3 linked regions of the Homo sapiens genome follow. Changing the gene in region 2 together with the main gene of any one other region gives a genetic interaction. Each region holds a gene or a part of one and is shown on either strand. Other genes may lie near its edges. The genes, in order: NF1, NDUFB6 and STK11.

Region 1 (3,650 bases), on a different chromosome or scaffold from region 2:
TCACAGAATTAAACCACTTTAGAACTGGATGGTAATACCATGCCATTATCGAATCTTTTTCATTTTATTAATACAAAAACATGATTTCCAGATATCTTAAATATAAAAATGGGATAAGGTCAGACCATCCTAAAACAGTGGCCACTTCATTTTACTCCTTTTAAATATAATCTTCATTTGGCACCCAAACTCTTATGACGATCAAGTATACTTCTCCCAGCTTTAATTTCTCCATAGTAATAATCACTAACATACTACGTATTTTGTTTACTTCATTATCCATTCACTCCCCAACCTCCACACCCACCCCAGAAAGTAAGCTCCATGAAGGCAGTGAGTTTTATGGGCTTTGTTAGTACTCTATCTCTAGCGCCTAAAACAGTACTTGGCAATAGCAGATAATTAATAGTTATAAGATAAAATAATTAAGAATATATACCTATCTTTCCTTTAGCACTGATGAGACCAAAAACTTACAAGCGCTTGAGAACATACTATCCATACTTACTCTTCTTCTAATATGACTACTTCAAACAACTAAACTTTAAGAGGTTCTACTTTAACTATAGTTTTTTCTTTATAACTTATTCTCAATTCATCTTATTTTCTAAACTCTTTGAAAGAAAGTAACATTCAACACTGATACCCAAAATGAATGCACTCATTTTCTATACAGTAATTACCTTATTAAGAAGTGGCTGTAATTTGGTTAGTGCTATTACTGTAGCTTCTATCAGAACTTGACTGTTGTAAGTGTCAGGTCCTTTTAAGCAACTCTCAAGTGCCTTTTAGGAAAACAGAATTTTTTATTTTACTTTCATTGAAATAAAACATTAACTCCTAAACTGAATCTCGGAATGAATTCAGGAACATTTACTTATTTAATAAATGCTAGAATGATTTCTCATGCTATGGTGATCTTGGTAGCTAGCTTAATGTACATTTGTTTTCTTATTTTTTGACATTTCTACATTATAAGAGTCAGACATTATTATAGTAATTACAAATTAAATAATTTTATGCAAGGCTATAGTCTTACCATATAATTAAATGCTTTGAAAACTGGTAAAATACTAAGTGTACCTGCTTAGCAAAAGAGGCAACATATTTTATTTTAAAGACATCTTCCTTAATGAAGTAATCAGAGTTTACATATAAAGACAGCTTCTTTAGAGAAGACTTCTTCAAAGAATTACAATAAATAATCAAAATACATTTTAAAGGCTTAATAAGTAACATATAAGATATTTCATTGACCTCAAATTTAAACGTCTTTTAGAAAAATGAAAGATATGCTTTACAACTTGAGAACCATAAATATTTGGGAGAAGTGAGGGCGGAACAGGTACCTTGCTAAGAATACGGATTATCTGCTTTATCTGCCCATGAGACACTCGTTTGCTAATACACCCAAAGACAACAAGAGCTCTTGGTTGCAGGGATGGATTATATTGGAATGCAAATCTGCAATTAAAAGATCCACAGAACTTATAAAAACCTTTGTGTTTATATATACTAAATAATAAATTATAACATTGATCATACAGTAATAGCTGTATTTTCAACAATATGCATATTTTTACAACTTATATTTAATTTAGGACATACCTTTGAGCTAGTTCTGTCCACTGGTCCAGCCACTTGCACGTTGGAATATCTCTCATGCATGCCTAAAAAAGGGGATACTCTGAATACATATTGTACATAAATGTTTTTAGAACTGTTTAAATAATGTTTATTATGATGTCATTAAGTGACCTGTTACCAATAACACAGTCCATGCAAGTGTTTTTATTTAAGCATTAAGTACAAAATAGCACAATAAACCAATATTTCTTCTATATAGTATTAACATATTTTTAAAAAAAGATTTTAACTTAGTTTCTTATCATTTTGGCTTCTATACCTCCATGATCTCCAACAAAGCTTCTGTGACTGTTTCCAAGGATGTCAAAGCAAAAGTCTCTCTCTCATAGGAGCCAGGAGAGAATGACCTGTCCCGGTAACTGGAACGGAAGGCAATGACAGCAGCTGACTTGACTTTGCTAATGCCAAACAGCAAGTAAAATTTGGGTAATGAGAACTCTGTCAGACTGAGTCTCAAAACTTGCTTGGTCTCTTCTGTAAGAGAATAAAGGAACAAGTAAAGACAGAAAATATTACTTTTTAATTTCTAAAGTTCCATGTTTCATTTTGAATTTAGAAAATTTGAATACCATATAAAAATTACATAATCATGTTCCCTAAATCAAACCTCTAGATACATTGTATTAATGCTCCTTGCTTCATTTATCTACAAATTAGTGCTGGTAACTGAACATGGTCAACTGGCACTGAGTATTCCGCTTATGGGATAACTCTACATGACAAGTATGCATAGAAAATCTTTACTATAGCTTGATATGGAATGGAAGTAATTTATTTTCTTTTTGGTAATATTTCATGTCATTACTGGAGGCTTAAATTAGCAACTTGGTGTTAGAGCACAAACATAAATAAGATAATCTATATTGATCAGGTGAAGTAAAATGGAGAAAGGAACTGGTAAACACAAATTCCTTTCCTAGAACTTACCACTAAAATGAAGCTGTGAACAAGTACACAGAGAGTGAATGATATTAATGACCAGTCCATGTGTGGAAGCTCTAAGGGAGAGCGGACCTGTGGCTACTAAGAAAGTAACAACGTGGAAGAGGTAGGGAAGATGAGCTGCCACATCAAGGGAATTGTTGAAGGACAGCATCAGCATGTAGCGTGCTAAAATAGCAATATCATCCCACATAAGATGTTGTTCTAAAGTAGGAGTTGGAGATAAGCATGTCTTGTCAATTATTTTGCACATCCTTCCAATAACCTGTAAAGAAGCAGGATTTTTTTTTTTAAAAAAAAAAACATGGGACTCAAAGTTTTAGCACAAAAAAGTTCAGTTTAATTTAAAAGTAATTACAAAACAAAAAACCTCCTGATGATAAAACAGATATGCTATAGTACAGAAGGCAAAAGAAAAGTGATTACCTTGCTTGAAACCAATTTCACATTTCCAGAAGCCAAAGCTACAGCAGTATCTGCCATCACCTCAGCTTTTATTGATCCCAAGCCACCTGTTGCACTGGTTTTGATGAAACTGTCTAGTACAACATCAAGCAGATCTGTAATCTAGTTGAAGAAGGAAAATAACATGTTTTTAATCACTCTACCAATTTAATTTTTAATTAAAAAATATTCATTGGAACAGCCTAATCAATATGAAAATTCTATTTTACCTGAGGCCTCAAAAATACTAGATTTTATTTACAGGCCTGTCAGTAAATACAATTTATTATAAAATATCCAGTAAAGGATGAGTATATTCATTTGACTCCTTCAGAGATTAAGAGATTGGTATTCAAAAATTTTAAATCTCTATCAATACTATCTTCAGTCACTTGCAAAGTATCTCTATGCTTTTCTAAGACAGTAATGTAGCATCAATATAAAATAGTAATTTGAAAATACAGAGCTGGGTGCAGTGGCTCACGCTTGTAATCCCAGCACTTGGGGAGGCTGAGGCGGGCGGATTGCTTGAGGCCAGGAGTTCAAGACCAGCCTGGGCAACATGGCAAAACCCTATCTCTAAAAAAAAAAAAAAAAAAAAATACAAAAATTAGCCA
Region 2 (3,650 bases):
GAGAGACTAAGTGTGTTATGCATGGGTAAAGAAAGAAGCCAAGAGCTGTTTGGTGACTAGAAAGATGGAATGTAGCAGAAACTCCATGAACAGGGGTCTGGGAAATAGCAAAGAGCACACAGATAATATTTGGGAAGATGACAGTGAGTTTTAGCTAACAGAATTTGAGCAGAAGTGATGTAAGCTACTTCTAAGCTTAGATCCTAAAAATCATCCCCTGAGACATCCTGCCGTATCTTTGTATCACAATCTTGGAACCTCATATTCGATAGGCACGGCTGTAAGATTGAGGAAGATCACCTGATTCACAGTAGTCTGTGATGTCAACAAGAAATAAACCTCTGTTTTGTTAAGCCATTGAGATTTGGAAGTTTGTTATTACTTGTCCTATTCTAAACATATATACAATGAGCATTCTTCAGTTCCTCAAAGGGGTCATGGCACAGAAACAAGAAAGAACCACAGTGGCAAAAAATACAGAAATATGAGAAATGCTACAGGATCCCTGATATGGTCTTCTGAATAGAGCTCTCCTTTTCCTTTGAACAGTAAATGGCAAAATAAATTAACATTTAAATGGAATAAATGGAAGACTAAATAAATATAAATTGCCCAGCTGGAAAAACCAGCAAGATAATTTCCTATTTTGAGACTACCTAGGCTGTAACACACATCAATGTTACACAATAAAACAAAAGGAGAAATCCCCTACTTTTTTTTTTTTTTTTTTTTTTTTTTGAGGCAGGGTGCTCTGTCGCTAAGGCTGGAGTGCAGTGGCGCAATCTTGGCTCACTGCAACCTCTGCCTCCCAGGTTCAGGCAATTCTTGTGCCTCAGCCTCCCCGGTAGCTAGGATTACAGGCGTGCACCACCATGCCCAGCTAATTTTTGTATTTTTATTAATAGTAGAGATGGAGTTTCACCATGTTGGCCAGGCTGGTCTCAAAATCCTGACCTCAGGTGATCCACCTGCCTCTGCCTCCCAAAGTGCTGGCATTACAGGTGTTAGCCACCGCGCCTGGCCCCCACTTTTTTTTTTTTTTTTTCCCGAGACAGAGTCTCACTCTGTGACCCAGGCTGGAGTGCAGTGGCGCAAACTCCGCACACTGCAACTTCTGCCTTCCAGGTTCAAGCAATTCTTGTGCCTCAGCCTCCAGGTAGCTGGGATTACAGGCGTGCACCACCACACCTGGCTAATTTTTGTATTTTTTTTTTAGTACAGATGGTGTTTCACCATGTTGGCCAGGCTGGTCTCGAACCCCTAGCCTCAAGGGATCCACCCACCTCGGCTTCCCATAGTGCTGTAATTACAGGCATGAGCCCCCGATACCCCCTACTTTTTTTTTTCCTTTTTCCTTTTTTTTTGAGATGGAGTTTCACTCATTTCTGAGGCTGGAGTGCAGTGCCACGATCTCAGCTCACTGCAACCTCCGCCTTCCAGTTTCAAGCAATTTTCCTGCCTCAGCATCCTCAGTAGCTGGGATTACAGGTGCCCGCCACCACGCACGGTAATTTTTGTATTTTTAGTAGAGACGGGGTTTCACCATGTTGGCCAGGCTGGTCTCGAAGTTCTGACCTTGTGATCCACCCACCTTGGCCTCCCAAAGTGCTGGGATTACACGCGTGAGCCACCGCGCCTGGCCCCTCCCCCAACTATTTCTTAAACCAGCGTTCCAACTGGGACCGCTGGCCAGTTTTGGTGGCCCTTCCTAAAATTCCCCTGTTGCAACAGATAATCATTACTGTGACTAAGTCATTTGATTAAAGCAAGAATCACACTTTTGTTATTTAAATTGTGTACTTTTGAGTTATGATAGTTCATTATCTGTGACTAGAAATAGACAAGAACATAGTATGTATTCTACTATGCTAAACAATAACCTCACAAACAGCTAGTAAATACCAACTGACTACTGAGTCACCTTTTAATGCTAAAATAACTCATTTCAAATTAGTACTATAGCTCACACATTCATAGTATACATTTTTTTTTTTTGAGACGGAGTCTCGCTCTGTCACCCAGGCTGGAGTGCAGTGGCGCAACCTCGGCTCACTGCAAGCTCCACCTCCCAGGTTCACGCCATTCTCCTGCCTCAGCCTCTCGAGTAGCTGGGACTACAGGCGCCCGCCACCACGCCCAGCTAATTTTTTGTATTTTCAGTAGAGACGGGGTTTCACCGTGTTAGCCAGAATGGTCTCGATCTCCTGACCTCACGATCCACCCATCTTGGCCTCCCAAAGTGCTGGGATTACAGGCATGAGCCACTGTGCCTGGCCCATAGTATAAAATTTAAAACACCCATTAGTGGATATTAAATTCACAGATGGAGAACTTAAGGTCAAATCTTGAAAATGAGGTACAAAGCCATAGGACATGAGAGTTTGGAATTAATAACAGAAATTCAGTTGCTGTCACCATGCATGGATGTTTGCTTAGGCTCATGCCCTAAGCTCTTTACCCAACATGAAACAGGACACAGTGAAAAACTTTTGGTACTTTCAACTCCCTTTAGGAAAATCAAGGTCACAAAACACGTTTTACAGCCAGGTTGAAAATAAATGTGCTCACTTCCCATTTGAACTGTAATTGTTACCTCACGGTATTTCTTCCTGTTTTTTTTTGTTTTGTTTTGTTTTTTACAAGAATACACAAAACAGGGACTTAAACCGAAAGTGAGAAGGAAAGAACATTTTAATCTAATAATTGCTTGGAAAGGGAGGAAAAGGAAAGAGAAAAACAATAAACAAAAGAAAAATCAGAAGTGTTAAGACTTACAGGGAATATTCTGGACTTCTTTTCAACTATGCCATATGGTTTTTCCTGTAATAAAAGTTAACTCTGTGTTAATTATGGTGTTAAGAGTTTCTTCTGAAAATAAGAAATAGGTCATACCCCAAATTTTAACTTAAGCTCCAAACTTTCACAGAACTCCAGATTCACATATCCAACTGTTTACTCAACATCTCTACTTAGCTATCAAACAGGCATCTCAAACTTAACCAGGTCCCACACTTAACTTCTCCCATCCCCAAACTGTTCCTCCCCATGTCCCCCATCTCAGTAAATGACACTCTTATTCCCCCAGTTATGAAAGACAGAAACCTTGACTCCTCAGCAGAGCCTGTTAATTCTATCTTAAGAATATACCCTGAATCCAACTGGTTCTCATCACCAGCCTTGTCCAAGCCTCTATCATATTTTCACCTCAACTACCACAACAGCACCTACTAGCCTCCCTGCTTCCACTTGTGCCCTCCTATGCAAATGAAAAGTCTATTCTCCACACTTCAAGGCAGAGTACACTGATTCTTTTAAGATATGTCACTCTGCTCAAAGTTTCATAATTCTTAGAGAAAAAGCCAGTCTTTTCTCCCTCACTTACTCTACTACAGCCACAGTGGCTCCATTCCTAGGAGTCCAATTCAGTCAAGCCTGCTTGTGCCTCAAGGCCTCTGTACTTCATGATTCCTCTACCTGAAATGCTCTTCTCCTAAATACTGCTTGACCTGTATCTTCATTTCATTTATGTTTGTCTTCAAAGATCACTTCCTCAGAGAGGCCTAATTAAAATAGCAAGCCTTATCATTCTCTAGTTTTTACCCTGCTTAATTTTTCTTCTATAGACTTGTTCTCCTATAACATTAATATAC
Region 3 (3,650 bases), on a different chromosome or scaffold from region 2:
GCTGTGACCACAGAAGCTCAGCCATGTCCTCTAGGAGCAGGCAGGCTGACCTGACTCCAAGCCTGACAGATGTCCCCTCCACCCTGAGGCCTGTGTCCCAGGTGGCACTCAGAAGCCAGCACCCACCAGATGGATGCTGGCTGCAAAGCCAGCAAAGGCCAGAAGGGGGTCTGGGGGGCCCTGAGCACATCCCAGCCCAGGAGGCTATCGGGGGGCAGCCCCAGTCCCCGCCAGGCGCCCAGATGACCCGAGCTGTGCAGAGACCCCCAAGGCACAATCAGCACCAGCGCCTCAGGGGTCCGGACACTCCCACTCCCAGAGCCGGTCTCAGTGGGTGGCCTCGGGGCTCGGAGGGGCTCCAGCAGACGGCTCAAGGGCCTCCAGGGGCTGGTGCAGAGGAGCAGAGCCCACGAAGTGAGGGAGGCGGCACTGTGGGGCCTGCTGACCCCGTCCGCTGCTCTGTCTTCCCTGTCATGGAGCTGGGGGCCCTGGGCTGGATCCCAGCCACACCCTGCTGCTGGGAGCCCCAGGAGGAGGGGAAAAAGAGAGGCTCTCGCCAGTGTTTGGGACCAGCTGTGCCCTTCCTGGCGCATCTCCATGCCTAGGGCAGGGACGGACGCATGTCCTCACTCAGACCCCAGTTCGGACAAGGCGCCTGGGTCTGGCCGGTAACAGGACACTGCCCAGAGACCCCACTCGGGCCCCGAGAACTGCGGGCGCTGCACGGGGTCTGGCCCCAGCCCAGCCTGGCACCCCCACCACGCCCTGCTCTAGCGCCCGCTCAACCAGCTGCCCACATGGCCGGCCTCCCTGCAGCCTCGGCCCCACTGCCCCCAGGGGCCGCTCACCTGTGCTGCCGGATCTGCCGGATGGAGAACCTCTTGGCCGGTTCGTACTCAAGCATCCCTGAGGAGAAGCCGGCGAGGAGCCTGTCAGCTGGGCACAGGCCTGAGACCCCACCAACCGTCCCCGCCTGCCCAGCCTCTGTTGTCAGGCCCTGGGTGATACCTGGACGCTCCTAAGGGGGACCCCGCGCACAGGCGGTCTCCCTGACAGAGGCCACTCCACTCCTGGGACATGCCGGGGACAGCCTGTGCGCGGCTGGCAGGGAGACAGGGCTGGGCTGGACGGCCAGGGCGGTTCCGTTCTCCCAAGGCCACTGGGCAGATGGACGGACGGCCAGTGCCACCTGCTGCCATGCGTAGGAAGTGCAGCAGGACAACCCTGACAGACCCTGCAAGCCAGGGAGCCCCCGAGGGTGGGGCTGGGGGAGGCGCAGGGCAGCACTGCCCTCTGGGGTGGGAGTTCGGAGGGTGAACAGGGCCCAGAAGCAGGGTGGAGCTGAGGGACCTGGCAAACCAGGCCCTGCGGGGAGGTCGGCCTCTCCACTCAGTCCTCTCAATGCCTGCTGGGGTCTCGGGGCCAATAGCCCCCCACCTGACACCCCCAACCCTACATTTCTGCACAAAAGCCCCGCCTCCCTGGGGCTGCGGGCAGAGGGATGAGGCTCCCACCTTTCAGCAGGTCAGAGAGCGGGGGGCCACAGTCGCCCGGGATGGCGTAGCTCCCCTTCCCGATGTTCTCAAACAACTTGTAGATGTTGTCCCCTTCGAAGGGGTACAGACCCGTGGTGATGTTGTAGCTTCATTTCGAGGGGAGGGAAGAAAGGCGTGGTCAGTCAAGGTGGTTGACGCCCTAGGAGCCCCAGCTCTACCCCAGGGACAGAGGCGTCCCGTGGCTGCTGGACCAGAGGCCCTGTGGACTCAAGGACACCTCTGTCTTCACCACCTTCCACTAGTGGAGGCTACGGGGTAGGAGGGGAGTGTCCTCTGGACCCACCCGGGGAAGGGGCCTGGAGCTGCTGTCACCCGCCCAGCTTCCCTGTGGGGCTCTGGGAGGAGGGTCGGCCGTGCCACTCTGTGAAGATCCCTGACGGGCCAGGCTGCACTTCACACGGGTGAACCACCATCTGCCGTATGAGTTACATTTCCATAAAGTAAGCACCCCCTAGCGGCTGTGGCCAGAGAGGGTCTGGGCCGGTGGCCACGCCCTGCGCCCACAGGCCGGCAGCTGCCCAAGACGCAGAGGCCCCTCGGAGTGTGCGTGTGGTGAGTGCCCGGGGGGGCGGGGCACTTACAGGGTGACCCCAGCCGACCAGATGTCCACCTTGAAGCCGGAGAAGGTGTCCAGGCCGTTGGCAATCTCGGGCGGCTGGAAAGCCGGGGAGCCCTGGCTGGTCCGGCAGGTGTCGTCCGCCGCGAACGGGTGCAGTGCCTGTGGCGGTGCCGTGCAGCCCTCAGGGAGTGCCCGGGAGGGGGCGCCCCAGGGCCCCCCCTAGCACGTGCCTACCTCGGCCACGCCCAGGTCGGAGATTTTGAGGGTGCCACCGGTGGTGAGCAGCAGGTTCCCCGGCTTGATGTCCTTGTGCACAATGCCCTGGCTATGCAGGTACTCCAGGCCGTCAATCAGCTGACAGAAGTACCTGCGGGCAGCACACACCCGTCCTGGGGCCGAGGCCTCCCTGCCCCTCACAGGGGTCCCCTTTGCAGCTGCCTGGGAGCCTCCCAAACACCACAGGCCCAGCTGGGAAGTCACAGAAGTCCAGGCACACAGGACAGAGGAAAGGCTAGGTCCAGCAGGGAGCCACACCTGCGCCTGCAGTGGCCACCCTCGTCCGGCCGAGCCACGTCTGGCAGGGCCCCGGATGTCCACAGGTCTCATTTTCCTGTGGGCCACAGGCCGGCTGCACCCCAAAGTCTTGCTGGAACAGCAGGCCCCTCCCTGCCCCTGTGGTCCTGCAGCAGCAAGGGGCCCTGACTCTGAGGCCACAGACCTGCATCCAGGAGATCTGGTCAGGGCAGGCGGCTGCCAGCGATGGGCTGGAAGCAGGCCACTGGCCTCAGGCAGCAGGCCCAGCAAAGATGGAGGCGGGAGGTTGGCAGCAGCCCTGCCTGTGGATGCCACACATGGGGGACCCCAAAACTGTTTTTAAAAACTTGGGCCTTTACAAGGCCGGGCGTGGTAGCTCATGCCTGTAATCCCAGCACTTTGGGAGGCTGAGGCAGGCGGATCACGAGGTCAGGAGTTTGAGACCATCCTGGCTAACACGGTGAAACCCCGTCTCTACTAAAAATACAAAAAATTAGCCGGGCGTGGTGGCGGGCGCCTGTAATCCCAGCTACTCGGGAAGCTGAGGCAGAAGAATGGCGTGAACCTCGGAGGCGGAGCTTGCAGTGAGCCGAGATCGCACCATTGCACTCCAGCCTGGGCGACAGAGTGAGACTCCATCTCGAAAAAAAACACAAAAAAACAAAAAAACAAAAAAACTTGGGCCTTCATGTCAATGAATATCAGGACAAGCAGTGTGGCCTCACGGAAAGGAGCCTGCCCTGCCTGGCCCCCGGCCCCCGCCCCACCCTGGCCCCTGCCCCGCGCACGCACCCGTGGGCCTGGCACACTGGGAAACGCTTCTCCGGCACGCTGTCCAGCATTTCCTGCATGCCACACACGCAGTACTCCATCACCATATACGTGGGGCGCTAAGGACACACAGCTCAGGGGGCGGCCCCACTCACAGGCCCAGGGAGCACGGGGGCCAGAAAAGGGGCTCTGGAGGGACCCTCTGCACCCACCTTGCCCCTCCTCGGGAC

Evidence for each region.
Region 1: changes in NDUFB6 (region 2) and NF1 together harm fitness more than expected from each alone (negative genetic interaction), as found in Homo sapiens cells (one large-scale study listed by BioGRID).
Region 3: changes in NDUFB6 (region 2) and STK11 together harm fitness more than expected from each alone (negative genetic interaction), as found in Homo sapiens cells (one large-scale study listed by BioGRID).

Annotation. Positions count from the first base shown.
Region 1 is NC_000017.11:31,335,839-31,339,488, reverse strand, and holds part of NF1 (neurofibromin), read right to left. Parts: intron 3,157-3,650; coding exon 3,016-3,156; intron 2,855-3,015; coding exon 2,575-2,854; intron 2,122-2,574; coding exon 1,907-2,121; intron 1,671-1,906; coding exon 1,609-1,670; intron 1,465-1,608; coding exon 1,350-1,464; intron 786-1,349; coding exon 684-785; intron 1-683. UniProt on the Homo sapiens protein: Stimulates the GTPase activity of Ras. NF1 shows greater affinity for Ras GAP, but lower specific activity. May be a regulator of Ras activity.
Region 2 is NC_000009.12:32,556,135-32,559,784, forward strand, and holds part of NDUFB6 (NADH dehydrogenase [ubiquinone] 1 beta subcomplex subunit 6), read right to left. Parts: intron 2,821-3,650; coding exon 2,776-2,820; intron 1-2,775.
Region 3 is NC_000019.10:1,219,205-1,222,854, reverse strand, and holds part of STK11 (serine/threonine-protein kinase STK11), read right to left. Parts: intron 3,532-3,650; coding exon 3,442-3,531; intron 2,483-3,441; coding exon 2,350-2,482; intron 2,275-2,349; coding exon 2,138-2,274; intron 1,643-2,137; coding exon 1,515-1,642; intron 907-1,514; coding exon 849-906; intron 1-848. UniProt on the Homo sapiens protein: Tumor suppressor serine/threonine-protein kinase that controls the activity of AMP-activated protein kinase (AMPK) family members, thereby playing a role in various processes such as cell metabolism, cell polarity, apoptosis and DNA damage response.